Regions from separate parts of the Homo sapiens genome. Here regions 2, 3 and 4 are each linked to region 1. Evidence: fine-mapped expression QTL. A gene starts in region 1. Each other region holds a variant in brackets. All regions are shown on one strand. Distances are from middle to middle. Region 1 holds the start of WLS (Wnt ligand secretion mediator). Region 2 overlaps WLS (Wnt ligand secretion mediator). Region 3 has its middle 23 kb from the start of WLS. Region 4 has its middle 99 kb from the start of RPE65.

The links. PIP is the estimated chance that this variant, and not a neighbour inherited with it, causes the effect. A credible set is the group of variants that fine-mapping cannot tell apart.
Region 2: its variant is the best candidate, but not a certain one, in a credible set for the expression of WLS in transverse colon (CEDAR, PIP 0.55).
Region 3: its variant is the best candidate, but not a certain one, in a credible set for the expression of WLS in sigmoid colon (GTEx, PIP 0.85).
Region 4: its variant is the best candidate, but not a certain one, in a credible set for the expression of WLS in blood mononuclear cells (TOPMed, PIP 0.71).

The regions. Positions count from the first base shown.
Region 1 is chr1:68,230,925-68,239,588 of GRCh38, reverse strand. It overlaps WLS (Wnt ligand secretion mediator), which reads left to right and starts at 7,066. Exons shown (of 12, transcript NM_024911.7): 1 at 7,066-7,395. The coding sequence starts at 7,290.
Region 2 is chr1:68,196,607-68,200,606 of GRCh38, reverse strand. The region is part of intron 1 of WLS (Wnt ligand secretion mediator); the gene reads left to right. All of the region lies in intron 9 of GNG12-AS1 (GNG12, DIRAS3 and WLS antisense RNA 1), which reads right to left. Among named protein-coding and RNA genes, the nearest start is that of MIR1262, 15 kb to the right of the region's middle. RefSeq lists an enhancer at 462-963. The variant T/C (reference allele first, on the strand shown) is at 2,443.
Region 3 is chr1:68,251,275-68,259,938 of GRCh38, reverse strand. No RefSeq gene overlaps it. Among named protein-coding and RNA genes, the nearest start is that of WLS, 23 kb to the right of the region's middle. The variant C/T (reference allele first, on the strand shown) is at 4,864.
Region 4 is chr1:68,346,310-68,354,973 of GRCh38, reverse strand. No RefSeq gene overlaps it. Among named protein-coding and RNA genes, the nearest start is that of RPE65, 99 kb to the left of the region's middle. The variant G/A (reference allele first, on the strand shown) is at 5,030.

The sequences.
Region 1 (8,664 bases):
CCGAGGCGGGTGGATCACGAGGTCAGGAGATCGAGACCGTCCTGGCTAACACGGTGAAACCCCGTTTCTACTAAAAATACAAAAAATTAGCCAGGCGTGGTGGCGGGCACCTGTAGTCCCAGCTACTCGGGAGGCTGAGGCAGGAGAATGGCATGAACCCGGGAGGTGGAGCTTGCAGTGAGCCAACATCGCACGACTGCCCTCCAGCCTGGGCGACAGAGTGAGACTCCATCTCAAAAAAAAAAAAAAAAAAATCTCAGCTTCCCAATTTGCTAGCAATGTGGCCAAGGGAATATTCCTTAACTTCTCTGAAACAGCTTTCCTCTTTTTAAAATGATTACAATAGTACCTATCTTACAGGATTGTTGTATGGATTAATGGAGATAACATAGGGAAAGCATTTAGAAGAGTGCTTGGTACATAGAAAGTAGTCAACATAAGTTCTCATTCTTGTTATTGCTATAATTATTGGCATTATTCATAGGAGCTATTAACTGCCACTGTATTTGATGTTTGAGGAATGATGTCCTCCCTCACTCCCAGCCATTCCAGTTTCTTTTCACTAATGCAAAGTAGGAGAGGTCCTTGATTTTCATATATATTATCCTCATGCAACCTTTGCTTTTCCATGTTACATATAGGCATCCTAAGCTGTTTTTATGGTACATTGTCCTTCATGCTGAGCTACTTAGTGATGATTTTGAGCTAATCTGCAATGGGGATAAAGATTGGGCTTTGGCTTGAGTCAGCGTCTATTCTTAACACATCTAGGTTAATGCTGAGGTTAAGCCTCAGCTTCTCTTCCTGACATTGGCCGTCTATGGGAGGTTTCCCCAAACCCCTGCATAGCCAGGGACTGGAACTTATTCATTCATCTTTTTTTTTTTTTTTTTTAGACGGAGTCTTGCTCTGTCTCCCAGGCTGGAGTGCAGTGGCACGATCTCAGCTAACTGCAAGCTCCGCCTCCCGGATTCACACCATTCTCCTGCCTCAGCCTCCCGAGTAGCTGGGACTACAGGCGCCTGCCACCAAGCACGGCTAATTTTTTGTATATTTAGTAGAGACAGGGTTTCACCGTGTTAGCCAAGATGGTCTCGATCTCCTGACCTCGTGATCCGCCCGCCTCGGCCTCCCAAAGTGCTAGGATTACAGGCGTGAGCCACCGCGCCCGGCTCATTCATCATTATTCATTACAAAAATTTGTGTGCCAAGTCTGCCACGGTACTGGGTGTTGTCTGCATATCACAGGAATCACTGTCCGGGGCAGGTGTTTCTGGGCCTTCCCGGGTTTTCCACCTATTGCCACTCTGCGCGGAGAGAAGCAGATATCGAGGAACTTGTCAGCATGAGAAAGTTCATGGGGAGACGGGGAAGAAGAGCCATCATGACATGAAGGAGCAGTCAGCTCAGCCCCTATTTGGCTTATACCATGAAAACTGGCAAAAAGAAAAAGCCCTTTTCCCCACCTCTGGTGGAGGAACCCAGCACAGGTGATCTCAAAGGCTTAAACACTGGAGGCTTCCCAGCTCTCTGCTGCAGCTTCTTTCAAGCCTGAGAAACAGGGGGCTGGCTGGCTACTTCAAACTGTTGATTGCCTCCCACTAGAGGCCTCTGGAAACCTGTAAAGTTTCTTACCTGCCCTTCCAGGTTGCCTGGGTTCAAAGAGGCAATTTTATAAGAGAGACTATAATTAGGGGTTTTATGGTTTGTTTTGTTTTGTTTTGTTTTGCTCTCTGGGAACAGAATCCTCCTCCCCTATAACATGCCATATTTGTTGAGTATTCACTTTGTGTCAGGCACTGTGCTAGGCATTTTTTATTTTGTTTAATGATCACAACCCATAAGACTGGTATTATTTATTCTTTGCAAGAAATGAGAAAAGTAATTTCCCCACATTTATTTACACAGCTAGCAAGACATAAAGCTGTGACTGAATAAGCCTAATGACTGAAATGTCTGTGGAATGTAAAAGAAAAGGTGAAATGAAGATCTACAGAGGAGGTGGAGATGCAAAACGGGAGTGGGACATGGGGTATTTATTAAGCAATTGAAGATCAGGTTGAAGTATTGGTTTTCTGAATAGTTCCTACCCACAGTTATTGTGTAAAAGGAGGCATTAAGAAAGGTCTTGTATCTCCATACAAAATAAGACAATGGGGTCCGCAGAAAAAGAAGGGAGGGGTGGTTTTGTTTGGGGGAAAAAGAGCATTTTAAAAGAAGTTGTGTGTGTGTGTGTCTATATGTGTGTGTGTATGTGTGTGTGTGTGTGTGGTGAAAAGTGACACTGAATAATAGAGTGTGAACCCACAGTGCTCGCTCACATTCACAGGTACCAATTACCAGAAAATACCAACAACCATGGAGCCATAGGGATGCCATTTATGGATAAAAGCTATTTATGAGAATGAGAAGACTCAGAGTGGGATTATTCCTCTTGTTAGTTTCCTCTGGGAAGTAAATTAGATGTTTCAGGAGATGTATTCAATCTTTTTAGAACTCTACATTACATTTACTGCAATGCCAATAATAATGTGCTGCTCTTGGCTTCCAAAGGAGGCTTTCTCAACTTCAGAATCTAAGCCCTCCTCTGTGCAAGGTGCTGTGCTGGGACTGTGAGGCACACAAAGGCTCAGATCACACTCTCCTTGTGTTGAAGGAATTTGCAAGCCAGTTAGGGTAACAACACATCACATATATAGATACATGTGCAAAATGCAGTCTAGTGTATAGGTGCCAGGTAGGAATATAGTCAGTCAATTATATATAGGAACTGGGGGTGAGGGAGGAGTTATATCTACCTTCAGTTAGATATCCATTTATCCATTCATTCATTCATGAATTCATGCATTCATTCATCTATTCAATACATACGCATGGAACATCACTATGACCTTCCATATCCCAAACACTTTTTTTTTTTTTGAGATGGAATTTTGCCATTGTTGCCCAGGCTGGAGTGCAATGGCGTGATCTCAGCTCACTGCAACCTCCGCCTCCCAGGTTCAAGTGATTCTCCCGCCTCAGCCTCCCGATTACAGGCATGCCTCACCACGCCCGGCTAATTTGTATTTTTAGTAGAGACAGGGTTTCTCCATGTTGGTCAGGCTGGTCTCGAACTCCTGACCTCAGGTAATCCGCCCACCTCAGCCTCCCAAAGTGCTGGGATTACAGGCGTGAGCCACCATGCCCGGCATATCCCAAACACTTTGAATAAAATGATGAATAAATCAGAATACCTAATATAAAGTCTAGTGGAATGGAGTTGAAATGATCAGTTTTTATTGACAGAGTTGGATTTGCCCTTGGATCATTTCAGTCTCTGGGATAATCTACCTAATGACAATGACTCAAAACAAACATTTCCTTGGCAGCTGGAAGTTTTTAGAACAGATGTTTCTATGTTAAAAACCACTGAGTATTGTCAAAGTTCAATTCTAGATGTTGTCCTTATTAACACACTTGTCAAGTAAAGTTAACCACCTAGACTTCTCCTAACATATGCTTCAAACAGTAATCACAATATGATAAAAATTTTAGAGCTGAGCAATAATCAGTCATCAGTTTTACTAGTTTTACTAGTTTTTAAACACAAAATTATTGATTTCCCTTAGTTTCCTAAATATAATAATAAATATTCATATCTTACAAGAATACCATGAAATAGTACTATTATTCCCATTTTACGGAAGGGAAAACTCTTCTGTAAAGAGTGAAGGTTTTACAGAAGCCTCAGAGTTGGTCTGTGAAGCCTCAGAGGTGGTAAGTAACTGCATAATGGCCTATAATCACATGAAACAAGGGGCAGATGGGATCTGGGTTCCAAACCAGATCCAGCTGACTCTAACTGTCATGTTCTTTTCTATTCACCTGTGTTGTCCGCTTGGGAAATAAAGATTCACAGTCACTTTTAATGTTTAAAAAGATGTGATAGAAATTCAATTTTTTTAAAGCAGCCCATGGTGATGAATACTACAGGTGTCTACATCCCACCAAGTTGGGCATTATTGGTAATCTCATGACAGAAGTACTGATTAGCAATTAGAAATATCCCTTTTTAATTAAAATAACTATTTAATAAGTGCTCTTTTAAAGCAGGGGATCATCTTGGTGGAGAACCAGCAACTCATTTACAGATGAGAAAACTGAAACCTAAGGAGTTAGGCTAGTTACTCTGCAGAGATGCATTTCAGAGCAGAGGGGGTGGGGTGTATTGTAGCAGCTCATTAAAAACTAAGTCAAGGAGTTCACTAATCTGAATAAATCACTTCTACCACTCCAGACATTTTTTATGGATCCAGTTTATATTTGAAGTGGACGGGGGCCAGGCGTGGTAGCTCACACCTGTAATCCCAGCACTTTGGGAGCAGAGGTGGGTGGATCACCTGAGGTCAGGAGTTCAAGACCAGCCTAGCCAACATGGCGAAACCCCATTTCTACTAAAAATACAAAAATTAGCTAGATGTGGTGGTGGGCACCTGTAATCCCAGCTACACAGGAGGCTGAGGCAGGAGAATTGCTTGAGCTCAGGAGGCAGAGGTTGCAGTGAGCCAAGATCGTGTCACTGCACTGCAGACTGGGCGACAGAATGAGACTCTGTCTCAAAAACAAACAAACAAATAAATAAACAAAAAACCCACCATTTTTTCTCTACCCTCTTATGCATAGTGCTTGGGGGTCTGTGGACTAAACTGACAAAAGACAGATTAGCAAGGCAAAAGACAAATTTTTGTTCACATATATCAAATGTATGTGGGCATTCATAACCACTCAAGGAGGCAGTTGTTAATAGAATTTGGAGCTTATATTCTATCTTAATAGGAGAAGAAGTGTATTTATGAGAAAACAAATGACTTTTAGGAAAGATAAATGGGCCCTTAGGAGTGCTGGGCTCAGAACATGATACCCCAAGGTATCTGAGTACTTTGAACTGAAGGACATTGGAAGGACAACAATTCTGTCTACTTCATCCTTTCTGATAGTACCTGGTGTTTGCCAAAGTAGAGGTAATTAATTACTATTCAGTGAATAACATTTGGACTGGGGGGGGGTTCCTCTGGGGCAGGTGCAAGTACTTTGACATCTTGGTATCCTTGAGTGCTTAAGAAAGAAAGCCTGGAACATGTTAAAGGCTCAATAAGTGACTTGGATAAAGAGTTGAATGAGAGAATAGATAAACAGCAACCACAGTCATGCATTGCTTAATGATGGGAATACCTTCTGAGAATGTGTTGTTAGGTGATTTGTCATTGTGCAAATGTCATAGAGGGCACTTACATAAACCTAGGTAGCATAGCCTACTACAGACCTAGGCTACACCGTGTAGCTGATTGCTCCTAGACTACAAACCTGTCTGGCATGTTACTGTACTGAACACTGTAGACAACTGTAATGCAATAGTAAGCACTCTGTGTATCTAAACATATCTATAGAAAAGGTGTTGTAAGAATATGGTATTATAACCTTATAGGACTACTGTCACACACACGGTCTGTTGTTGACTGAAACATCCTTATGTGACACATAATGATGTGTATATCCTCAGAACTGTTAAGAACTATTAGATGTTGAAGAGATGGAGTTTTGTATGCATAAAGTTTGGTGCTTGTCCTTGACAAGTCTCTGTTCTATTTGGAGATTAGAAATGAATGCTTCTATTAAGTGTAACCTGCATGACATCTTTTATAAGGGCAATGAAAATTCAGGAACAGAGTAGAGGAGGAGAGAGGACTGGGAAAAATAGTCTCTTGGCATGAAGAGGGTGTGTAAGGATGGGAGGGACAAGAAACAAGATGTGTGGGTGGTGGTGGTAGAAACTGCACGTTTGGGGAGCAGGGTGGGGTATTTACCAAACCAAGGGTCTATTGAGTAAGGTGAGTTGTACTGGCCAAGCGGCCAGTTTATGAAACATGGAAAAACCAGGCCCAGAAATTTAGGCTTGATAGAGCAGGAAATCTCTATCGGGAGCCCCGCCCCTCTTTTTATGGAAGTTAAGTATAAATATAAATATATGATTTCTCACAAAGAGACAACAAACATTGTAACTTAATATAGGTACCCTCTAAACCAACTAAGATCTCTTTAGACCTTTGAAATACAAACTGTGGGCTTGCTTTCACATTCACTTATTCATTCCACAAAAGATTATGGGGCACCTACTAGAGCTAGCATTTTGTTAGGCACCATGGGGGGTACAAAGAACAAAAAAAACTTGGTCCCTATTCCCCAGGAGTTTACAGCTCAGTGGTGGAGACAAACGTGTACACAAATCCTTACAATAGGAGGTAAAAATGTAAATACAGGATTGTAGGGGCTCAGTTCCCAGAGATACTGCATGGAGGTGGTGTGGAAAATTAGAAAGATTTTTTAACACTAGTTGGTTTTGGATCAGGTTTAACATTGATGGAGTAGAACATGTTCTCTTTAAGGCAATAACCAGGGTTAAGGCTGTGGAAGCACATGTGCTGGAGTAACGAACAGTGGTCTGATTTGGCTGGAGAGCAAGTTTCCTCAAGGGGCGCCGTGGGGAATTTAGCTGGGTATGTGCCCAATAACCGAGGCTGGGAATCTGGTAGAAAGAAGTCGAGCTGAGACTTTATTCCGCATCTCTGTGTTTTGACTTAGGCATCTATTGGGTCCTTTTAAAAAAAATTCTCCTCCTCTTTCCTAAAGAGAGTTCTAGCAGTTGGGGGTGGGGTGGGGACCATTTCCTAAAGTCAACGCGTAAGTTAAAGGTCTGCAAGGCGGTCCACCGGTGATTTAAATCTCGCACTTCGGAAACCAGAAAAGGAAACCTGTGAGAAGCTGGGCAGGGGGAACCCGCTTAACATCAACAGCAACCCCTAAATGGCATCAGACCTTGGAGAGACAGGTTGCAGGCCAGACTCGGGAGCCAGGCGCCAGCACCCGCCAGAGCTCTGAGCCCCGAACTGGTGGGCAAGGGGTAGAGGAAGAGAGGGAGGGAGGGAGGGAGGAAGCGCGAGAGGGAGGGAGGAAGAAAGGGAGGGAGGCGGCGTCATGTGATCCGCTTCCCTGCTCCTTTAAGCGTCCACAGGCGGCGGAGCGGCCACAATCACAGCTCCGGGCATTGGGGGAACCCGAGCCGGCTGCGCCGGGGGAATCCGTGCGGGCGCCTTCCGTCCCGGTCCCATCCTCGCCGCGCTCCAGCACCTCTGAAGTTTTGCAGCGCCCAGAAAGGAGGCGAGGAAGGAGGGAGTGTGTGAGAGGAGGGAGCAAAAAGCTCACCCTAAAACATTTATTTCAAGGAGAAAAGAAAAAGGGGGGGCGCAAAAATGGCTGGGGCAATTATAGAAAACATGAGCACCAAGAAGCTGTGCATTGTTGGTGGGATTCTGCTCGTGTTCCAAATCATCGCCTTTCTGGTGGGAGGCTTGATTGGTAAGTGCGGAGAGCTGCAAACTTTTCCCCCTTTCTGTCTTTTCGGGCCCCTTCCCTCTTTGCCTCTTGGGCTACTTGTTACAGTATCACTGCCTTGCTTCTATGATCTAATTAGTCCGGCTATTGTGCTTAAGAAAGCAGAGCTCCATGGGGCTCCGTGGGGCACAATCCAGTCTAGTGGCTAAGAGAAAAGGAGGGGAAAAAGTTTTGGCCTAGTTTCAGTATCCACTTGAAAGGCAAGAGGGGGGCGGCGGGGGTGGGAATCTTAAGCATGGCGACGGATCGCGCGAGGAAGCGCTGGGTTACAAAGTTGATTGCTCGCCCCCCCCCCCCCCCGCTTTTTCCCGCGTTCCCCCCCTTTTCCTCTCGGTTCCCTTCCAATCAGCTCCGGGAGGGCAACGTAATCGACTTTATTAGGAACAACAGAAGAGTCGGGGAACTGTGCCCGGCGCAAACCCGGAGCTCTGTTACAAGGCTGAGATACTTGCACGGTTGTAAATGCATTTGGTCGTCTTTGCTAGGGGCTGAGGGTTTGCAATTTGGGGTCCCGACCTTCGCGCCCTCTGCTTTCCCGCCGCACTCCACCCCACGCTCTGCCGTGGACAGGTCCGAATTGTCGGCCGGGAGGTTGGGTGGGATGGGGTGGGGTGGGAGGGAGTCCTTGACCAGCGCCGCGGGAAGTTGGAGAGGTCGGAGGGGAAAAGCGTATCCGAAAGGTGTTGCTTTTGGCCTCCTGCCCACTCGTGAATATCCCTTCCCCCACTACTTAGAGCCCCGAGAGCCGGTGACTGTGAATGTCCCCGTCCTCTTTTGGCGCTTAGGAGAGCGCCCTCAGCTCCCACCACAGCCCCCCGCAGGTGACAGCTCGCCGGCCTCCTCGGCGACAGCGCCCGCCCCGGGAGACCTCCCCTGGCGTGCACCTCCCGGACCTCTCTGAGTCAAACAGGCTTCCGGGTGAAGAAAACCGCCTCACGGACCGTCCACTCGGAAAAACTCCCTTCCCCTCACTGTCTCCCCATCTGCATCCATCCTCCCGCCTCTCTGCACACTCGCGCCCCCCGCCCCCTCAAGATTTGGGACATCCCGGCACAAACTTCAATGCCAACTTTGCAGCGGGCGCGGACGGGAGGTTCGGTTTCCTTACTTCACGGCTTTGTTAAACTTTGCGGAGTGGGGAGTCCACGGAGGGGCTTTCTCCGCGCGTGCCTTTACGGGCGCCCACGCGATGTGGGGTGCGGGGAAAACGCCCGGGGGCGCCGGCGGCGTCGC
Region 2 (4,000 bases), 37 kb after region 1:
TGTTGTTTCAAAAGCAATAGCTGGAAAAAAAAAAAAAAAGCAATAGCTGGAGAATATAAGCTCCCCAAACTTTTGAAGATATAGACATAGACCAAGTAATTTGTAGTCTCTGCCCACCCCCGCCCCAACATTAATTCTATCCGTTGAAATCAGTCCCAATTATTTTTAAAAAATAAAGGCTAATAACCAGTTCTAGTACCCCAAAATGTTTTATGGAACAAGATAGAGAATAAATAAAATGAAATTATAAAATATAAATAAATATTCACATTTTTACAGGTGGAGAGATGGTGCTGGCAGCTTTTTAACTGAGATTAGTTTTCAGGTGTTAAATCAATGTCTCAAGTCAGTAGGAGAAAGTATCTGCTACCAACTTTTTGTATGTTTTTAAATCAATGTGTATTGTTCCTATCATTTTTGTTAGATAAATTCTATTGTAAACATAAAATTCTCTAAAACATTTCTGAAATCTTTGACCATTTTTACTTTAAGTCATTACTTTTTAAAATGGTGCTGTTCTGATTATTAATTCTTATAAACAGGAATTACCTTTTCAACTGGTCTATTCTCTGCATTCCTTCCCCTTGTACCCCAAAGCAGATTATTCTTTAAATATCATCTTTGTTGCAAGGCAGACATTCTTCCTCTAATTTAGAGGAAGGCTATTATTACCTGATGACTGAGACTTCAAAGGCTCTTTGGGGCCATTTGTGGGAATAGGACGGGGAGCTTCTTCATTCCCACCTGACTACCCTCTCACTCCGCCTCCTTCCAGCAGATCTCTGGTCTGGCCTTGTGGCTACTTACAGGGCAGAGATAGGTGTCATAAAAGGAAACATTCCTGCCAAATAAAAGTTCTTTGTTATGTGTGGCTCTGTTTATTATTCCTTCTTTATGGTGCTCTATAGAGTACAGCAGGGATGATTGGGAGCAGAGGCCAAGGCACTCTAGTAGAATTATACCACTGATTAGAAAAGGCAAGGGTGGACACAGAGATAAGAGTAGTACTACAGTTTTCACCGTTAAATGATCTCTTTTTAATTTTTAATATTCAAGCACAGATATCTGCAGAAAATATGATTGTTTTAGATATTCTATGACCCAGCACATGTTCTATCTCTACCTCAGCACCTTCCCTCCTTGGCCATCCCCCATTCTCCCTTGGCTATTACCTGCTCTCTTCCAAGGCTAAGCCCTGCCGAAAGCTACCCTCAGCTCTTTTTACAACTGGAGCATCCTGTGCAAACCTCTGTCAAAGAAATTTCCAATCAGGGTGTAATTCTTTGTGAACTTCTCAGCCTCCCACACTAGCCTGTGAGCAAATGGGGGTCTGGGAGGCCATTCGTCTCTGTCTTTAGTTAGTACGGTACCTGCATAATAGTAATGCTCCTAGGTGATTGCTAAAGAAATGTTCATTACTCATAATAAAGCAAAGAAATAAATAGTCTATGTTGGCTTAAATGGAGACAATGTGTCATGTCAGCCTGTTGTTTTAGTTTTATTTTAACTTTTCTAAGAGGCAACCAAGTCTTGTCTCTCTCTAACTCTTAAATTACAGGTTCTGGAAGGAATAGGGGCTAATGATTTAATGTTGACTCAATTTTAAGCATGATAAATGCTAGCGGTTGGCTAGATAGTAATTTGTAAACTGGATAGCCATTTGAAGTGAAATAACAGGAAGCTGACTGGAGTCAATGAATATTCTTCCAAAAGAAGTACTACAGGTTTAGTCATTGTTCACTTACATTTTTATTCAAGGTTATGTTGTAACGATGACTGGATTTTTCTGTCATTCTGGTGTATTCATTTCTCCCACCTCCCAAATATCTGACTGTTGCCCTTTCTCAGGGAATGTCAGGTTACATATAACATTCATCAAAATTATTTTTTCCTGAAATTGTTTATTTATTGTCTGCTTCCTCCGTTATTTGTACGTTCCATATGGTTGGTGCCTATCAGGTTTACTCCAGAACCGGCAGTGTCTAGTGCATGGTAGATACTCAAGACAAATTTGGACAATATACTGTGAGCCATAGTAATGTGTGTAACTGAGGGACCACTGAATTTTCATAGAGACTTCAGGTTGTGTTTGTACATTTCTTCACACCTTGAATTTGTTAGAAGTCTTATTGATTTCATATCACTTTAACATTAAATGTTATATAGAATCACATTTCACAATTCATGTGCTGTAGTGGAAAAGTGGAGGCCAAAAATACTGTATTGAAATACAGACAAAATAAAATGGTCATGTTTGATAAAGTAAAAAGAACTGAATTCATAATGGACTGCATTTTCAATGAATAGCTCATGGTTTTATAACTTCTGTGCATATTCCCAAGGCTATCTTAACCAACCATGAGTTAACCAGTTTACAGTGACTAGGCATATTTAGTTTTGGCCAAATTATTCTGTCATTGAATTGGTCTGGTGTAGAAGTAG[T/C]TTTTGGCCTACTTGTTTTCAGTTAAACCTTATACTATGGGTGGGTGGAGGAGACATTTATAATGTGTGCTGAGGCAGCTGGGTAATATTGCATTACTCTCCTAGGAATACTGGGGAGTGGTTATTTTTAGCTTTCACCTGAGCAAACATGACTCAGTTTGTTGACCTGAATCTATCCAGCCCCCTCTTGAATACACAAACTCTATTAATCCCTAGAACCACGCAAGTGACTAAGTAAGGCCTTCATTACAAATACCTGTTATTGTGGCTTGTTCAAAGGTTGAAGATGATTTAAACTTCCTCCATTTAGCTCTTTTCTCTTAATCCCACACACTTTAAAAAAATTTACAGACAGATCAAACTTTTTTTGATTCTAGACACAATTTGTGACCCATGTAGCTAAAATTTTGACTATAGCTAATGAAAACACATTCTATGGTAGGTGACCAGCTACCAGCTGTAAGCTTTGCTTTTGGTTTACGTGATAATGCTGTCTATATAAAGAAACACTTGGGAATTCACTTTTAGCTGGAGTAGGACATTGCACTGAGCTGTAAATATATTATTGGGGGAACATTAACTGTCCATGTTTGAATATCAGGATGTCTGTTTACTTTCTCAAGCAATACTTGTGTTTTCTCTTTTGAACACTATTAGAAAAACGGAAAATGTTGAATTATCTTCAGGTTTTGAAGTTATGGAAAGCATTTTTGAGACTCAAGGACTAATTTATTCAAGTGAAAAAAATTGTGATTCTCACAGTATAGCTTGAGATGCACTTGAGGCTTCTCCAAGTTCACTGCCATGATATTTATGAAAATATTAGTATTTCTGGGATTTTTTTTCTTTATAGAAGAAACACTAGACTAATGAGAGGATGAAAATAATGCAGGCCCCTAAAAAGGCAGGCGTTCACTGCATTCATTAAAAATGCGGACTTTGTGACCATAAAGTGTTCAGCTTCTCTGTTATTAAGTTTGGAATGTGGTTTTGGAGCTTAGCTGAGGAACTCAGCTAGTTATTTTTCGTTTTGGCCTGAGAAGTGAGAGACTTGTTTTTCAAGAAGGTAAAAAATAAAGAAAAAAAGGTTAGGTTCATTTTGGAAGAATAGAAGTTTTAAAATGTAGTAACTATTTTCTGCAGCAAATAGTCAGTTTGAGTATGTTAGCCGAAAATAGAATTCATGACTTTTGTCTCACTGTTTATTTCTCCAACCACATTAAAAAGGGTTCAGTTAAATGTGCCATTTGGCTTTTCTAATGTCAGTGGGCTATTTAGCTGAGTCAGGATAACCAAAGTTTGATTGACTCATATTTCTAAGAATAAGTCAGATGTCTGATTTTAGATGGATTAGATGTGAGGTCTTCGTGATACAGTTTTGAGTTTTAAAGAAAAACGTCTGTAGCAGGGGTTAGTGGCAACTTGTATTGCAGTGTTCAGCCTTCTACATGAAGGATGTTCAGCTAGAGCTTAGTAGTGTTGAGTTTTCTGGTAAGTATTAATAGGCATTGTCCTAACTTCTTACAAACATAACATTTTACTAAAAATGTATCATTAA
Region 3 (8,664 bases), 20 kb before region 1:
GATTCTCACACTTACAACTAAAATTGGTATTACTTTTTAAATTAGAAAGCATACCTCAACATAATTAAAGGCTTTTTATGGAAAAATAAAGGCTTTTTATTGGAAAGGAAGAAGTCAAATTATCCTTGTTTGCAGATGATATAAACTTTTATTTGGAAAAAAATATAAATACTCCATCAAAAAGCTGTTAGAACAGATAAATTTAGTACAGTTGCAAGATACAAAATCAATATACAAAAATAAGCAGCATTTCTATACATTAACAGTAATCAATCTGAAAAAAAATCAAGAAAGTAATCTTATTTACAATACTACAACAAAACCCCATAGGAATAAATTTAACCAAAGAAGTAAAATATCTTTAATAGAAAAACTATAAAACACCGATGAAAGAAATGGAAGAGACCACACAGAAAAATGGAAAGATACCGCATGTTCATGGATTAGAAGGTGTAATATTATTAAAATATCCAGGCCTGGCATGGTGGCTTACGCCTGTAATCCCAGCACTTTGGGAGGCCGAGGCGGGTGGATCACCTGAGGTCAGGAGTTCGAGACCAGCCTGGCCAACATGGCGAAACCCTGTCTCTACTAAAAATACACAAAATTAGCTGGGTGTGGTGGTGGGTGCCTGAAATCCCAGCTACTTGGGAGGCTGAGGCAGGAGAATTGCTTGAACCTGGGAGGTGGAGGTTGCAGTGAGCAGAGATTGTGCCACTGCACTCCAGCCTGGGCGACAGAGCGAGACTCTGTCTCAAAAAAATAAATAAAATAAAATAAAATAAAATATCCATACTGCCCAAAGCAATCTACAGATTCAGTGCCATCCCTATCAAAATACCAGCAACAATTCTTCACAGATATAGAAAAACAATCCTAAAATTCATATGGAAATAACAAAAGATCCCCAATAGCTAAAGCAATCCTGAGCAAAATAAACAAAGTTGGAGGCGTCGCACTATCTAATTTCTAATTGTGCTATAAAGCTATAGTAACCAAAGCAGCATAGAATTGGCATTAAAACAGACACATAGACCAATATAACAGAATAGAGAATCCAGAAATAAATCCACACTTACAGTTAACTCATTTTCAACAAAGGCACCAAGGACATACATTCAGGAAAAGATAGTCTCTTTAATAAATGGTGTGCAGAGAACTAGACATCCATATACAGAAGAATAAAATTAGATTCCCATCTTCTACCATATACAAAAATCAACACAAAATAGACTAAAAACATAAATGTAAGACCTGAAACTACAAAAGTACTAGAAGAAAACATTGGGGAAACAATATAGAACATTGATCTGTACAAAGATATTTTGGGTAAGACCTCAAAAGCATAGGTAACAAAAGCAAAAATAGACAAATGGGATTACATCAAGCCAAAATGCTCTGCACAGCAAAGGAAACAATTGACAAAGTGAGGAGAAACCTACAGAATGGGAGAAAATACTTGCATACTACCCATCCAACAAGGAATTAACAAGAATATATAAGGGACTCAAACAACTCAATAGCAAAAAAACAAATAATCAAATAATCCAATTTAAAAGTGACCTAAATAGACATTTCAAAAGACCTAAATAGACTTTTCTCAAAAGAAAGCATACAAATTACCAATGGGTATATGAAAAAATGCTCAACATCACTAATCATCAGAGAAAATGCAAATCAAAAACACAATGAGATATAATATCATCCCAGTTAAAATGGCTATTATTAAAAAGACAAAAAATAACAAATCTTTATGAGGATTCCACAAAAGAGAACAGCTGTACACTATTGTTGGGAATGTAAAGTAGCACAGCCATTATGGAAAATGGTATGAAGGTTTGTCAAAGAATTAAGAATAAAACTATCATATTGTCCAGCAATCCCAAGGCGAGGTATATATCCAAAAGAAAGGAAACCAGTATATTGCACAGATATCTGCATTCCCATGTGTATTTCAGCACTATTCACAATAGCCAAGATATGGAATCAACCTAAGTGTCCATTATTGAATGAGTGGATATAGAAAATGTTACATATACACAATGGAATATTAGCCATAAAAAAGAAGAGTCCTATTTGCAACAACATGGCTGGAGGTCATCATGTTAAATGAAATAAGCCAGGCACATACACACAAATATCACATATTCTCACTCATATACAGGAGCTAAAATAATGGATTTCAAGGAGGTTGAGAGTAGAATGGTGCTGACCAAGGGCCTGTAAGGAAACCAGTGGAGATGAAGAGAAGTTGGTTAATAAGCACCAAAATACTGTTAGGTAGAAGGAATAGGTTATGGTATTTGATATACAGTAGGGAAATTATAGTTAATAATCAGTATTGTATATTTCAAAATAGGTAGATGGGAAGAATTGTAATGTTTCAAATAAAAAGAGAAGATAAATATTTGAGGTGGTGGACACCCCGTTTGCCCTGATTGATAATTACACATTACATATGTGTATCAAAATATCACATGTACCCCAAGATATGTATAACTACGATACCTCAATAAAAAGTACCAAAAATTTTAGACAGCATGTTTACAAAGGAGATGTGGTGTACATACTGTATATTATGTAACATCCCCAGCAGAGTCTGAGGTAGCATTTTAAAATCTAAAGCATTGTATCAGCTAGCTATTACCTCAATAATTCATCATAACAAAACACTCCAAAACTCGATGGCTTACAAAAGCAACCATGTTTTTCTTATTTCATAGCTCTGTGGGGATGCTGTTCTGTATTTCTTCTCATTCTTTCAGGATCACTGATTCCCTGGGGCAGGCCTTCTCATGGTGAATAATGGGAAGGCCAAAGACCCAAAAAACTCAAATCTCATCAGCACATTTAATGCCTCTGCTCTCATCAGCTCCCCTCACATTCCATTGGCCAAAGCCAGTCATATGACTAAGTCCAGCTGTAGCAGGACCAGCCGCAGGCAAAACTCCTCAGACACCGAGTTAAAGAAAGAAGGGGTTTATTCGGCCAGGGGCATCAGCAAGACTCCTGTCTCAAGAGCTGAGCTCCCCAAGCGAGCAATTCCTGTCCCTTTTAAGGGCTCACAACTCTAAGGGGGTGTGCGTGAGAGGGTCATGATTGATTGAGCAAGCAGGGGGTATGTGACTGGGGGCTGCATGCACCGGTAATTAGATTGGAACAAAACAGGATAGGGATTTTCACAGTGCTTTTCTGTACAATGTCTGTAATCTATAGATAACGTAACCAATTAGGTCAGGGGTCAATTTATAACTACCAGGCCCAGGGTGTGGCACCAGGCTGTCTGCTTGCAGATTTCATTTCTGCCTTTAGTTTTTACTTTTTCTTTCTTTGGAGGCAGAAATTGGGCATAAGACAATATGAGAGGTGGTTTCCTCCCTTACAACGTTAGGGAAATATATTTCTTCCCATGAGGGAGAAGGTAGGTGAAGTGTTGCTATAAAATACTCAAATTAATATACTAACATTTCTTCAGTAAAACATATGAATATCTCTGCATTCAGTGGGATAAATACAAATTATAAATAACCCCAAGATAGTTTGGTTTTCAGAACCTTTTGGATTTTATATTTGAGATGAAAATCTCCATCAAGCCCTTGTGATCCTTCCTCTCTTGTCCTTTTACTCTGTAATTCCTACTCCTGAGACCAAGGGCTTCAGTAAGGATGGCGTTCCCTCTGCTTAAGGCCGCCAAAAGCTACTGTTGCTACATGTCTCCTAATGTCCTTCAAGGCATATATGTCATACACTTCTTTTGTTACCCTCACAGAACCTAACAGAAGCTCCGGATCCATAGGAAACCCATAAGAGAAATGCTTATTCAATTGGATTATAACATCAGTGAAGCCTGTAGACCCAATGCAAGCCAAGCATGAAAAGGTGTGAGGATGCCAAGGCTTAAGGACATTTTCTGTCATTCAGTTCTTGCATCTCATCCACTCCTACTCCATAAGTGTTCTCTTCTTAAAGAATATCTTAACAGTTTGCAGCTGTGTTAATCAAACTTCCCATTGTCTCTTTATTACATAACTCACACTTTCACATTTTTAAACAAAATGAGATAGTTACTTTGACTTCAACAATAGTCTCCTAAAATAAAGGGGGGAAGAGTTGGCATTAGAGTTATACTAACATCTAAGGCCAAGTAATTAGTGACTCCACTATTTTTCTATTCCCTTAACTATCTGAGAATCATGTATCTAAGAAGATTTGAAGTACGGCTGTGGATTTGTGTTTAAAGTGGAACATTGCCCAATAACAGTGCTGTCTACTATATATTTTTCCCTAACTCTTCTGGCCTAAAGTGTAATTAAAATAGAGAGCTATTACAACCGAATGGTTATTACTTGTTTCATATTACAGTAGGTTGGTTGATGTCTTCTTCAGAAATAAATAACTCAACTTCACCTGGAGGACTTTTCCGATGTCCCAATGTGATCCTTGAGTGACGAAATCATGGTTTCTTAAGTTTTGGAAGGAAGATGAAATAAACCCAAAGATTATGAAAGAAGAACAATAGAAAATTGCTGAATCACCAGCAACTGAACCAAACAAAAGAGTTTAAATAAATAATTTATTTTTAAACCTACATCATAAAAAATGACAAATCAAAGATAAATAAATCAATAGAAGCTTTGTAGGTCTCAAAGGAGATTTCTGGGCATATTTCTGGGACTTTATAAGTTGACGCAAATTCTCTATCACTTTTTAAAATTAGCTGGTTTATTTTATTACAGCAGCAATAAGGTTCAAAATTTTAAAATAAACAAAATAAGAAAGCATAAATTAAAACATCAAATTTCCCTACCTTCTATCTTTTCCTTCTCTGTAACCACGGACGTAACCTCTGGTAACATTTTCTTC[C/T]ATTTATAGCCATTGAGAATATTTCACTTTCAGTGTTTATATTAATTTGCTCAGGCTGCCATAACAAAATACCTCAGTCTGGGTGGCTTAAACAGCAGAAATTTATTTTCTCACAGTTCTGGAGGCTAATAGTCCAAGGTCAAGATGTCAGCAGGTTGAGTTTCTTCTGAGACCTCTCTCCTTGGCTTGCAGTTGGCTGCCTTATTTCTAAGCCCTCACATTGATTTTCTCTGTTTGCTCACATCCTTGGTGTGCCTCCAGTGTCTTAATCTCCTCTTCTTTACAAGGACACCAGTTGGATTGGATAAGGACCCACACTAACAGTCTCATCTTAATTTAACAACCTCTTTAAAAGCTTTATTTCCACATACAGTCACATTTTCAGGTGCGGAGAGTGAGGGTTTTCACATACAAATTTTAGGAAAAGACTGCTCAGCCCATAACACTATCTTAAAAAGCAAAGCAATGCTACAGCAAAATGATGAAATTCCTGTAGACATATCTTTGAACACTTTTGCAGGCATATGGGTAAGATAAATTTCAATTTGGGGGTCAAAGAGTATGCTCAGCAATAATTTGGATAGATGTTGATAAATTTCCTACAAAAGGTTTGTAATAATTTATTCTATCAACAATATATAGACCTGCATAGTTCCCTTCAGCTTTGGGCTTACATAACCTTTTAATATTCTTAATTGGATAAAAAAATACACTTTGTTCTTCAGTTTATGTATTTTAAAATATTATATGGTTAAGTATCTTTTCAGGTGTGAATTGCGCACTCATATTTTTTCCATAAACTCCTTTGCCCACTTTTTTTCTATTGGGTTATATATCTTTGTTTCTGTTTTTGTTTTGGAGACAGGGTTTCACTCTGCCACCCAGATAGAGTGCAATGGTGCAATCATGGCTCACTGTAGCTTCAGACTTCGAAGCTCAAACGGTCCTCCTGCTTCAGCCTCCCCAGTACCTCAGACTACAGGTACATGCCACCACTCCCAGTTAATTTTTGAATTTTTCTTTTGTAGAGGCCATAGGGTCTGGCTATGTTGACCAGGCTGGTTTCAAACTCCTGGCCTCAAGGAATGCTCCAGCCTCAGCCTCTCAAAGTGCTGGGATTACAGGTTTGAGCCACCATGCTCAGCCTTACCTTTTATTTACTTATTTGGAAGAATTTTTTTTATATTAAGGTGCCTTGTCGTATTTGTTGCAAATATTTTTTCCCAATATGTGCTTGTCTTCTATTTGACCTTTTTTCACGGCAGAGTGTTAAAATTGATAGAAATTGAAAATGTTAAGATTAAAATGTAGATATTAATCTTTTTCTTTTGGCTTGAGGACTTTGAAATAAGTTTAGAAAGGCATTTCCTATACCAAGTTTATGTTTGGATTAGTATTATTCATGTTCTTGCTTATTATTTTGGGATTTCTTTTATTCACATCTTAATAGAGAAGAAGGAAGGGTAAAATCCAGGTTTATGTTTTTCAAATGTTCAATCAGTATTACCAACATTATTTATTTAATAATTTATATTTTTCTCATTTATTAAAAATGTGACTTTTATCATTTTATTATTAAACTCAGATAATTACTCCAGATTATTTATGGATTTGTTCATCTATCTCATTGATCTTTTTTGTTTATTTGTGGTCAGAAAGAAAGTTCAGATACTTTAAAGCAACACTTTATCTGATGTACTCAACCCACCTCATGATTCTTCTCTTTTCAAATATTTTCCTACGTGTTTATTTTGTCATATAAATTTTAGCATCATTTCATTCAAATTTCAAAAATCTTCAAAAAACTTTGTTTATATTTTTGATAGGAATTGCTTTATAGTTTAGATTAATTCAAAAATAACTCTTTCAAAATATTGATTCATCAGATGGAAACCATCATTCTCAGCAAATTATCACAAGAACAGAAAATCAAACACCGCATGTTCTCACTCATAAGTGGGAGTTGAACAAGGAGAACACATGGACACAAGGGAAGGGAACACCACACATCCAGACATCTGGGCCTGTTGGGGGGTGGGGGGCTAGGGGAGGGATAGCATTAGAAGAAATGCCTAACGTAGATGACGGGTTGATAGGTGCAGCAAACCACCATAGCACGTGTATACCTATGTAACAAAACTGCACATTTTGCACGTGTACCCCAGAACTTAAAGTAAAAAAAAAAATTGTATGCAGAGAAGTAACATAGGAACATAAACTTTAGAAAAATGTTACTAATCAGATAACTTTGAATAAACCACTTAATCCCACTAAAAAATAGATAGGTAGGTAGGTAGATAGACAGATATAGATAGATAGATGATAGATATAGATAGATAGATAGATAGATAGATAGATAGATGATAGATAGATAGATAGATAGATAGATAGATAGATAGATAGATTCATCTATCCAAACAAAAGATGTCTTTTCATTTAACTCATTTTTAAAAATTTTGACTCAGTGAAATTTTAAATTTTCATGCTTTCTTATTAGATTCATTCCTAGAATAGTTATTGTGAATGAGATATTCTTCTCCATTCTACTTTCTAGCAGATAATCATTATTCTAAAGTAAAGTACTGGACTTTTTTTTTTTTTTTTTTTTTGAGATGGAGTCTCACTCAGTCGCCCAGGCTGGAGTGCAGTGGCGCAATCTTGGCTCACTGCAACCTCCACCTCCCAGGTTCAAGCAATTCTCCTGTCTCAGTCCCCCAAGTAACCAGGACTACAGGTGCGCACCACCACGCCCGGCTAATTTTTTGTAGTTTTAGTAGAGGTGGGGTTTCACCATGTTGGCCTGGCTGGTCTCAAACTCCTGACCTCACATGATCCACCTGCCTCAGTCTCCCAAAGTGCTGGGATTACAGGCATGAGGCACCACATCCAGCCAAGTAATTGACTTTTAATTATTGTGATTAGCTTTATTATTGCTTGAATTATTTTTATTTGAATTTTTAGATTTATAATTGTATCAATCACACATAATTCTAAGTTTGTTTCCTTCTTGTTTCTCTTTTTATTCTCTTCTTCAGTTGCAATGGCTAGCATCTCCAAAATAAATATCAAATAATAATGGTGATTTCAATTCTAGATTGTACTAGAGAAATTCACCAATACAATAAAGCAAGCAAACAAAATGAAAGCTATAAAGTTTGGAAACAGAAGTAAAATTATTATTGTTCATATATGACATGATTGTTTATGTAAAAAAATTGAAAAAATCTACAAACAAATTATAAGAATACATTTATTTTGTAAGGTCAGTGGATAGAAGGTTGATATAGAAAATCAATTTTATTTATATGTACTACACAACTAGAAAATAAAAAAAATTTAATACTTTTTATAATAGCACTGGAATTTTCTGTGTTTGGGTATAAAAGTAATAAAAGTAGTACAATATCTCTTCCTTAAAAATAATAAAATATAGGCTGGGTGCAGCATCTCATGACTGTAATTCCAGCACTTTGGGAGGCTGAGGCAGGAGTATCACTTGAGGTCAGAATTTCGAGACCAGCCTGGGCAACACAGCCAGACCCCACCTCAAAAAAAATAATATATATATATTTTTTAAGTTAGCTGGGAGTGGTGGCTCATACCTGAATTCCTAGCTACAGGGTAGGCTTAGGCAAGGTAATCACCTGAGCCCAGGAGATTGTGACTGCAGAGAGCTATGATTGTGCCACTTCACTCCAGCCTGGGTGACAGAGTGAGACCTTGTCTCAAAAAAGAAAAGATAAAATATGGCCAAGAAAAATTTCTAAAAGACCCTTTTAAATCAAATGGAAGAAATCACAT
Region 4 (8,664 bases), 120 kb before region 1:
TTAATATAACAAAGCAACTTCCAATGTCTTAAGACTCTCGTTCAGTCTGTTGGGTTGGGGAAGTATGTTAAAATACAGAAAAGCATTGTCAAGGTGCTATTTTTATAAATTGCTGCGGGACAGATATCCAAATTGCAAGTACATCTTCTACCATTCTAAATTCTGAGATGTAGCCTTACTCCAGTACTTTCTTGTCTCCAAACAAACTATAAGAAATGGTGTCTTTGTACAGTGTTTCTACTCCACGAATACCTTTTCTTGACCTATTTCCAACTGCATAACTGCTACTTCAAGACTAAGGGACCAACTTCTCTGTAAAGCCATGCAGAATCTCACTCTCTATCTAAGCAGCTTTGATCTCTCCTTTCTCTCTGATTCCAGACACAGCATCATGGACCTGCTTTGGAACAGTACTTATCTAATTGTTATATATATATATATATATATATATATATATATATATATAGCATATATATGACATATAAATATATATGTCTGATATATGTATCTCATTGTCATATGTGTAAAATATATATGACATATAAAAATATATATTCATTTACTTATTTTCTCTAATGATACAATTTCTCTTCCCTGTATTGCTGATCATTTTTCTTTTAGACATTTTCTAAAATACCAATACAAATATGCCATTGCTGACTGTTTGCATTTCATTTGTCTAAGTAAATTTACAGGAAGCTAGATGTGGCTATCAGGTACAGGAAGAACTAGAAGATGGGCCACAGGGAAGAGAAGGATTTGCACTGGAGGCCCTTGCAATAGTACACGTCTAAGGTGTAGAGGACTTGAATAAGAATGAGAATGGAAAAAAGGAATAAAGAAAAGATGCAAGAGATGTTGTGGAGAAAGAAGGGTGAGAGACATATACAGAAGAGTAGACAAAATGAGTTTTTAGATGAAGGGACATTTCTGATAATATGACTACATATGTCTTTTTTTTTCTTCGTTAAAACTGGAAGAAACAGTGATTTTTTTTTCTTTTTTTAAATTCCTTTTTTTCTTTCTTGATATGCCTATATAAACATTAAGTGAAACCCCTTCTGGTTTAACACACCAAAAAATGCTTATGAAAAGTTTTTTAAAGTAACAAAATGTTTTATGTATGACTGAGCTGTTGGGAAGGGATATAATTATTCAGGGGAGTCCAAGGATACACAAATATAAGTTAGTACCAAAGCCAATCTTTTCCTTGAAGGTACTTGCTGATTCTTGGTCCCTGGTGGCCTGAAATTTGGGTTATTAAGGGGCCACTGACAACAAACAGGAGACAAAGGCCAAAATCAATGCAGAGTGGGAAGTCAGCTCAGTGTCAGGACCACAAAAGGGTCATAGCCCCAATGGTAAACTGGAAACAACCTCTCTCTATAGACACAGGCATAGAGACACTCGTTTCTCAGCTTTGTGTGAAAAAAGAAAACATAAATAAAAAATAAAAATAAATGGCTCCCCTGAAAATTCTTCACACAAACCTACATTCTCATAATGTGAGGGTCAAAATCCAAACTGCCCTTTTAATTGAAAACCCCAACTCAAATGTAATTTGACTGATTCCTACTTGGCAGTATTCCAAGAAATGGGGCTTAAAATATCAAATATACTCTAGAGAAAGTCACTTCAAGCACGGGCTTAAAGAATTCTCAGAGACAAAGTTCCAAGACCACAATAAAATAAATTATCAGAGAAGGAAACAAACTACAATAAGTGAGAGTTGGCAGTCAGAACAAACATCAGAATATGACTGCAGAGACTAGATTTGGGAATAATCAGACCCAAAATAATAGATGTGTATGTCTAGTATATTTTTTTAAATTGAAGAGTAGTGAAAAATAAGACACTAGCATAATAGACTATTAGAATCCGCCAGCTAGATATAAAACTGAGCCAAATAGAGATTCTAGAAATTGAAAAAATCACAATTAAAAAACAGGAAATTAGACTCAGCAGTGGAGAGATTTAGTGAACTGGAAAATGGAGATTTAAAAAAAAAGAATTAGCAAAGCACTGCCAGATAGACAAAAGGAAAATATGAAATAGAGGTTAAGACACATGAAGGAGACAGTGAGAAAGTCTGCCATTCTCAATCAATTGGTTTAAAAAAAAATCTGAAGGAAACATGAACTATATCAACTGCAAAATGTAGGTACACTTCAAAAGCTGCCCCCTGCTAGGCAGAATATTAATATTAAAAGAGCATGGATAATCTTTGAGTCCCAAAGCTGAGAGGAAAGGCTGCCAACTTTAGGCAAAATATTGATGAAAGGGAAAATCTGACCATCCTTCTCTCCTTCCCTTTCAAACTGATAGTGCCATATTAATATAACTCCAAAAAAAGGGAGCTGAGTCCTAAAGGCCACAAGCCTAAGGATGAACTTGAAACAGGGCCATGGACAGGGAACAGTAAGTCACTTGTGTTCAACAGCACCGATTTTTGTTCTTTCTCCCTGCTGATATAACCCAGCTGGAGTAAGCTAGAAAACTAATAAATCCCCTTCCCTCCTCTTCAGAAGTGGCCAAATATCTGCCTCTAAAAAAAGTCAGAGAACCCCACCCTGTATCTTCTGGGTGTGGACATTCCTCTGCAGAAATAATCACGCTACAGAACAGAAGTCAGCAAGCCTTTTCCATAAAGGATCAGATAGTAAAGGTTTTAGACTTATAGGCCCTATGATCTGTATTGCAACTACTGAACTCTGCCATTATAGTGCAAAAGCAGCCACAGACAAAGAAAAAATAAATAATCATAGCTATGTCCCAACAAAACTTTACTTACGAAAATAGGTGGTAGGCTGCAGTTTGCTAACCCCTGCTGTAAAAGATTACCTAGGAGTACAAATGCTGGCAGCATTCGAGAACAGGAACTGTTCTAAAATAATATTTTAATAATCACTCATTTTAAAACACACTGTTATAATAATTGAGAGAAAATGTGCTATAGTATTCGAACATAGTGATAGTGTAAAGGTCTGGGAAATCTGACCCAGTGAAGCCACAGCCGCCCAATTCATACAACATCCACATGGTGATGCAGATCATACAGACAGAGTGAAATGACTCTGTCCAGGGGCACTACGTGGGATGAAAATGTCATTATTTTCACATAGTGAAAGTCATTTACTCCTGAACTAGAGATGCCCCAAAGCACAGACTGAGGAGAAATTCAAGAAGAAAGCATAGCATTAGAAAGCAGATGGCGTTGAAGGAAGTTTACCAAAGGACCCTTCCCTTTTAATTCTGTGCCTGTGGATTCTCCAGTAAGTTAGAATCCCATCATTTTAAAAATTATAAATACAATATATTACTTTCTTTTGCCATTTTGAACAGAATAAGTACTTGATAAATTCTCACTTTTGCTGGGAGAATTAGGAAATATATAAGATTTTTACATAATAAAATTTGTTTCTGGCTTTGGCTAAATTTTTCATCAATGTAAAATAATAGCTAATATTACTGATTGTTTACTGTGTCCAGGCACTCTTCTAAACACTCTACATATGTTATCTTACTAAAGCCTTGTAACTTAACAAGGTGGGCAACTAGACAGATTTGCAAGGTATGTGTTTGACCAGTGACAGCCACTGAAAATGTTAATTTGCTTTCCTCACTACCCCCCTACTCCAAAATGTCCTAGATCAAGTTCAATGAAGAACTTGCCAGAGTGGGACCAAAGGAAAAAATCAGAGTAAACTAAGAACAGTTCGTCTTCCCTACCTCCATTCTCTTGCTAGGAGAAAGGTAAAATTAAGATGAGCTAAAGAACAGGAAGAGATCTTTTGGGGTCAGATTCAAGTTCCTGGATGTGAAGAGCATGTTGCATGAACCCTGACTCCTGGTTTGGGGGAATCCATTAGACAGCCATACTACAGTGGTACAGTGGCACCACAGGAACAGGAGACTGGCATCTTGCTTACCAGCTTCTGGTCTGCTTAGTCTCAGGGTTTCCTAACAAAACTTAGGGAAAAGCATTTTGGAAGGAAGGGATGGGTATTGGCAGAAGAGGGCAAGGCTTAGCCGCAAAGCTACTCTCGCCACATACACACCATGTCTCCTGAGAGGTATAAACAATTGGATCACAATAGGGACATCAAAAGATGGGTAGGGATGGAAGGGAAGGCTTGTGCCAAATCGACCGCATGCATCAGAGGCACATGCATGGGAGTTGTAAGTAAGATGGCTTCAGATGGAAGATGCATCGTAAAACTTCACAGAAACCGCAGATGCCTAGACAGTGGCTCAGGGCCATGTTCATCACCATCCAAATCTATAGGTCCCCCACATCAGGAGATATTGATGAAATTGATGGATGGTGATGATCAGCTTTGGAATGTGCAGCAAACTAGCCATCACCAACATACAGGTAGCCAAAAGAAACCTGCTTCCCTAACACCAAATCTACTTTCCTCCCTCCAGATACAGTGAAAGGAGAGAGGAAAACATTCCACATCCTTTTCTTCCATAAGTAGCTCCCAAGTGAATGTGTGTGTCAGTTCAGATCCTCCTGGAAGCAGATACCAAGGCAGAATTAGATCTGCAAATGATGAATTGGGGTAAATGACTATGAATAATAAAGGAAAAGGAACAGGAGTAGGAGGGAAGGGGCTTCAGACCATGATGCTCATCTGCGACCTATGAAAAGAAAGAGGAAGGGAAGAAAAGTGGTAAGGCAAAGCTCCAGACTGTGATGCAGATCTGAGAGTCTTGACCAGGTCAACAAGGCACCCCAGAGCAAAGTTATCCCATTAGAGGAATCCCATTTTGGACAAGAATGGCTAAGCTCTAGTACCCCTGCCATGCTCAGTTACTGTCTGAGAGCAGCCCAGAGACCATATAGCCTCATCACGCTCACTTCAATGGACCCCAAACCTGCAGCATCTAGAGGCTGTCAACTGACTCTTCTCTTTGCAGAGTGTTCCCACTTCAAGGAAAATAACAGCAGCATACACCAATAGCTGCCACAGGATCTGTTCAGTTTATCCTGGGATGGCTGTATAGGCTTCAAACTTTGACATTA[G/A]AGTGAAATTATAAGGATTTTTCTCCAAGCCAGGGTTAATAATAAGATCAGTCACAACCTATTCCCATTCAGCAAGTTATAGAAAATAATAGAATGCCTGGTTCATCTGTTCTACGTCAATCGATTTTCACATTCACGTCCTCCTGCCTCTTTCGCATTCCTACCATTCAACCACGTTTGTCCCATCAACACCCACTCTGGGAATCAAGACCTCTTTCAGACAGACAGCAATGCAGATAAATTATCATTTGGACATTGCTTTTCGTAGTTGAAAAAATGCTTTGTGAATTCTTTTGACTGGTTTCTGTCTTAACTATCTCATTCATGTTAAAAGAATAAAAATGTAGTCAAGAAACAGATATCACCCCTAGTTTGTGATAGATCCCAAACCAAGCACACAGTGATATGAATTCTGGAATACTGTTATTTGACTTAATCATGGAGGCCAGACGAGGTTTAATCAAAAAAATGGCCCAAAGTTGAGATCTGAAAAGGGGAAGAAAGATCATTCCGGGCAGAAGAATCAACTTATGCAGTGGCCCTCAGTGACTTTAGAGTGTAGACTTTAGTGTCACTGAGATGAAGGAGATGGGTGAGAGTCAAACTTTCTTAGGAGTTTTCATTATTCTAAGAGTAACTTTGGGGTTTTAATAGGAGGACTGGAATAAAGGGACATTATATGGTCAGATTTGTACTTTGAAAAAAATCCCTCTGGATGAAGAATGGAAAACAGATGGGAGAATGGATGAGGAGCTCAGAGAAGGTTAGGTGTAATATTATTTTAGTAGTAGTAGCAGTTCAAGTGAGAGATGTGGCTATCTTGAACTAGAGTGTGGATATGGAATAAAAATTAGATCATTTCAAAATATGATTAAATGACAAAATATCCAAAATTCAGTGGTGAATTAGATATGGAAACTGAAAAATTAAGGTGTCAAGATAACTCCTAAATTTCTAGTTGGCACAACTGGATGGATGATAATTGCAATCACTAAAATAATAAATACCAAGAGAGAATCAAGTTGGAACAAGGCTATAAGTTCAGAATTGAACAGTTTACCAGTTAGGAATCTTTTAGTTGAAAGTGATTAAAAAGCCCAACTCAATCTAGCTTAAACAAAGAAGGGAAGTTATTGGCTAATGTAATTGTAAAATATACAAAAAGGGCTGACTTCAGCAGTGGCCTCATTCTGGAATAAAATGATGCCTCCAGGAGCCATTCCTTAGTTCTGTGTCCAGAGTTGGTTCCTGTTGGTGGGTTCATGGTCTCACTGACTTCAAGAATGAAGTTGCGGACCTTCACGGTGAGTGTTACAGCTCTTAAAGATGACACAGACCCAAAGAGTGAGCAGCAGCAAGATTTATTGTGAAGAGCGAAAGAACAAAGCTTCTACAGCATGGAAGGGGACCCGAACAGGTTGTTGCTGCTGGCTGGGGTGACCAGCTTTTATTCCCTTATTGGCCCCGCCCATGTTCCATTTCTGTCCTATCAGAGTGCCCTTTTTTCAATACTCCCTGCATTTGGCTACTTTTAGGATCTTGCTGATCGGTGCATTTTACAGAGTGTTGATTGGTGCATTTTACAGAGTGCTGATTGTTGCATTTTACAATCCTCTTGCTAGCTACAGAGCACGGATTGGTGCATTTTACAATCCTCTTGCTAGCTACAGAACACTGTTTGGTATGTTTTTACAGAGCGCTGATTGATGCATTTTACAATCCCCTTGCGAGCTACAGAGTGCTGATTGGTGCATTTTACAATTCTAGCTACAGAGTGCTGATTGGTGCGTTTTACAATCCTCTTGTAAGACAGGAATGTTCTCCAAGTTACCAACCCAAATGTCCATCAATGATACACTGGATTAACAAAATGTAGCACATATACACCATGGAATACTATGCAGCCATAAAAAAGGATGAGTTCATGTCCTTTGTAGGGACATGGATGTAGCTGGAAATCATCATTCTGAGCAAACTATCACAAGGACAAAACTAAACACCGCATGTTCTCACTCATAGGTGGGAATTGAACAATGAGAACACTTGGACACAGGGTGGGGAACATCACACACCGGGGCCTGTTGTGGGGTGGGGGGAGGGGGAAGGGATAGCATTAGGAGATATACCTAATGTAAATGACGAGTTAATAGGTGCAGCACACCAACATGGCACATGTATACATATGTAACAAATCTGCACATTGTGCACATGTACTCTAGAACTTAAAGTATAATAATAATAATTTTTTTAAAAGTTCTCCAAGTCCCCACTTGGCCCAGGAAGTCCAGCTGGCTTCACTTCTCAGTTCTACTTCCTCTATGTTGGTTGCATTCTCAGACTTTGCAAGGTGGCTTCCGGTGGCAGCAGGCTCACATCATCACAAGAACTAGTTCAGTGAAAGAGGAAAGTCTCTTCTCAAAATGTCAAACAAAAAAATGCAAAACCAAATATCCTCAGCATTTATAGTCTCAATTTGGGTATATGCTCAATCCTGAACTATTCACTGTGGTGATGAAATATGCTAATTATACCCCGGACCCTGAACTTAAGGCATTTTCAAAAAGAAGTTTATGGATGAGGGCTGGGCGCAGTGGCTCACACCTGTAATCCCAGCACTTTGGGAGGTTAAGGCAGGCGGATCACGAGGTCAGGAGTTCGAGACCAGCCTGGCCAACATGGTGAAATCCCGTCTCTACTAAAAATATATATATACAAAAATTAGCCGGGCGCAGTGGCAGGCACCTGTAATCCCAGTTACTCGGGAGGCTGAGGCAGGAGAAGTGCTTGAGCCCGAGAGCAGGAGGTTGCAGTGAGCCGAGACCACACCATTGCACTCCAGCCTGGGTGACAGAGCGAGACCCTGTCTAAAAAAAAAAAAAAAAAAAAAAAAAAAAAAAAAAAAAGAAAAAGAAAAAAAAAAGTTTATGGATGAAAGTGGAGGAGGATTACATATCCCAACAAAGAATCAGCTACCATTGCCACAAAAAGGATAAATGGATATTGGGCAGCAAAAACAACATAAAATTATCTCTTACAGCTGAACACAATTTCTGAGATTAACAACAGGCTCAATGTGGTGGACATTTAAGAAGATGAAATCCTCATTGATAAAGATGGGGTACTTGAAATGAGCTCCGAGCACTGGCAGAGGTCAAGACTATGGGCTACCAGTAACAACCTGCTTGACACAAAAACACAGACTGCATGGGGCAAAAGCAACATCAGACACATTCAAGAAAATCTGTTTTCTCATGAAGGTTCTCTGGAAAGTCCAACAGATGAATTGCTATAAAACAATCAGAATTGATTTTTTTTTTTTACTTATATTTCATTCACATTACATGATGTGGATTGAGTTAGTCTTAGTTTTTTCATTGTGTTACGGACTCCTCCAGGTATTAATAGAGATATGTAATGACTCTGGCATCTATATGCAGCCTTCTTTATCTCCTGGTGTTTTAGCCAGACCTATTTCTGCCTGAGAAGACTTAATGGTACACAAGAAACCTTTTGGGGGCTCTCGGTATGAATGAAAGTGAAAAATAAATTCCACTAGGGGGTGCTAAGCCTCAAAATAAAAACACAAAACAAGTATCTTTGATTTTCCCATACCTTTCAACAATCATTGAACAACT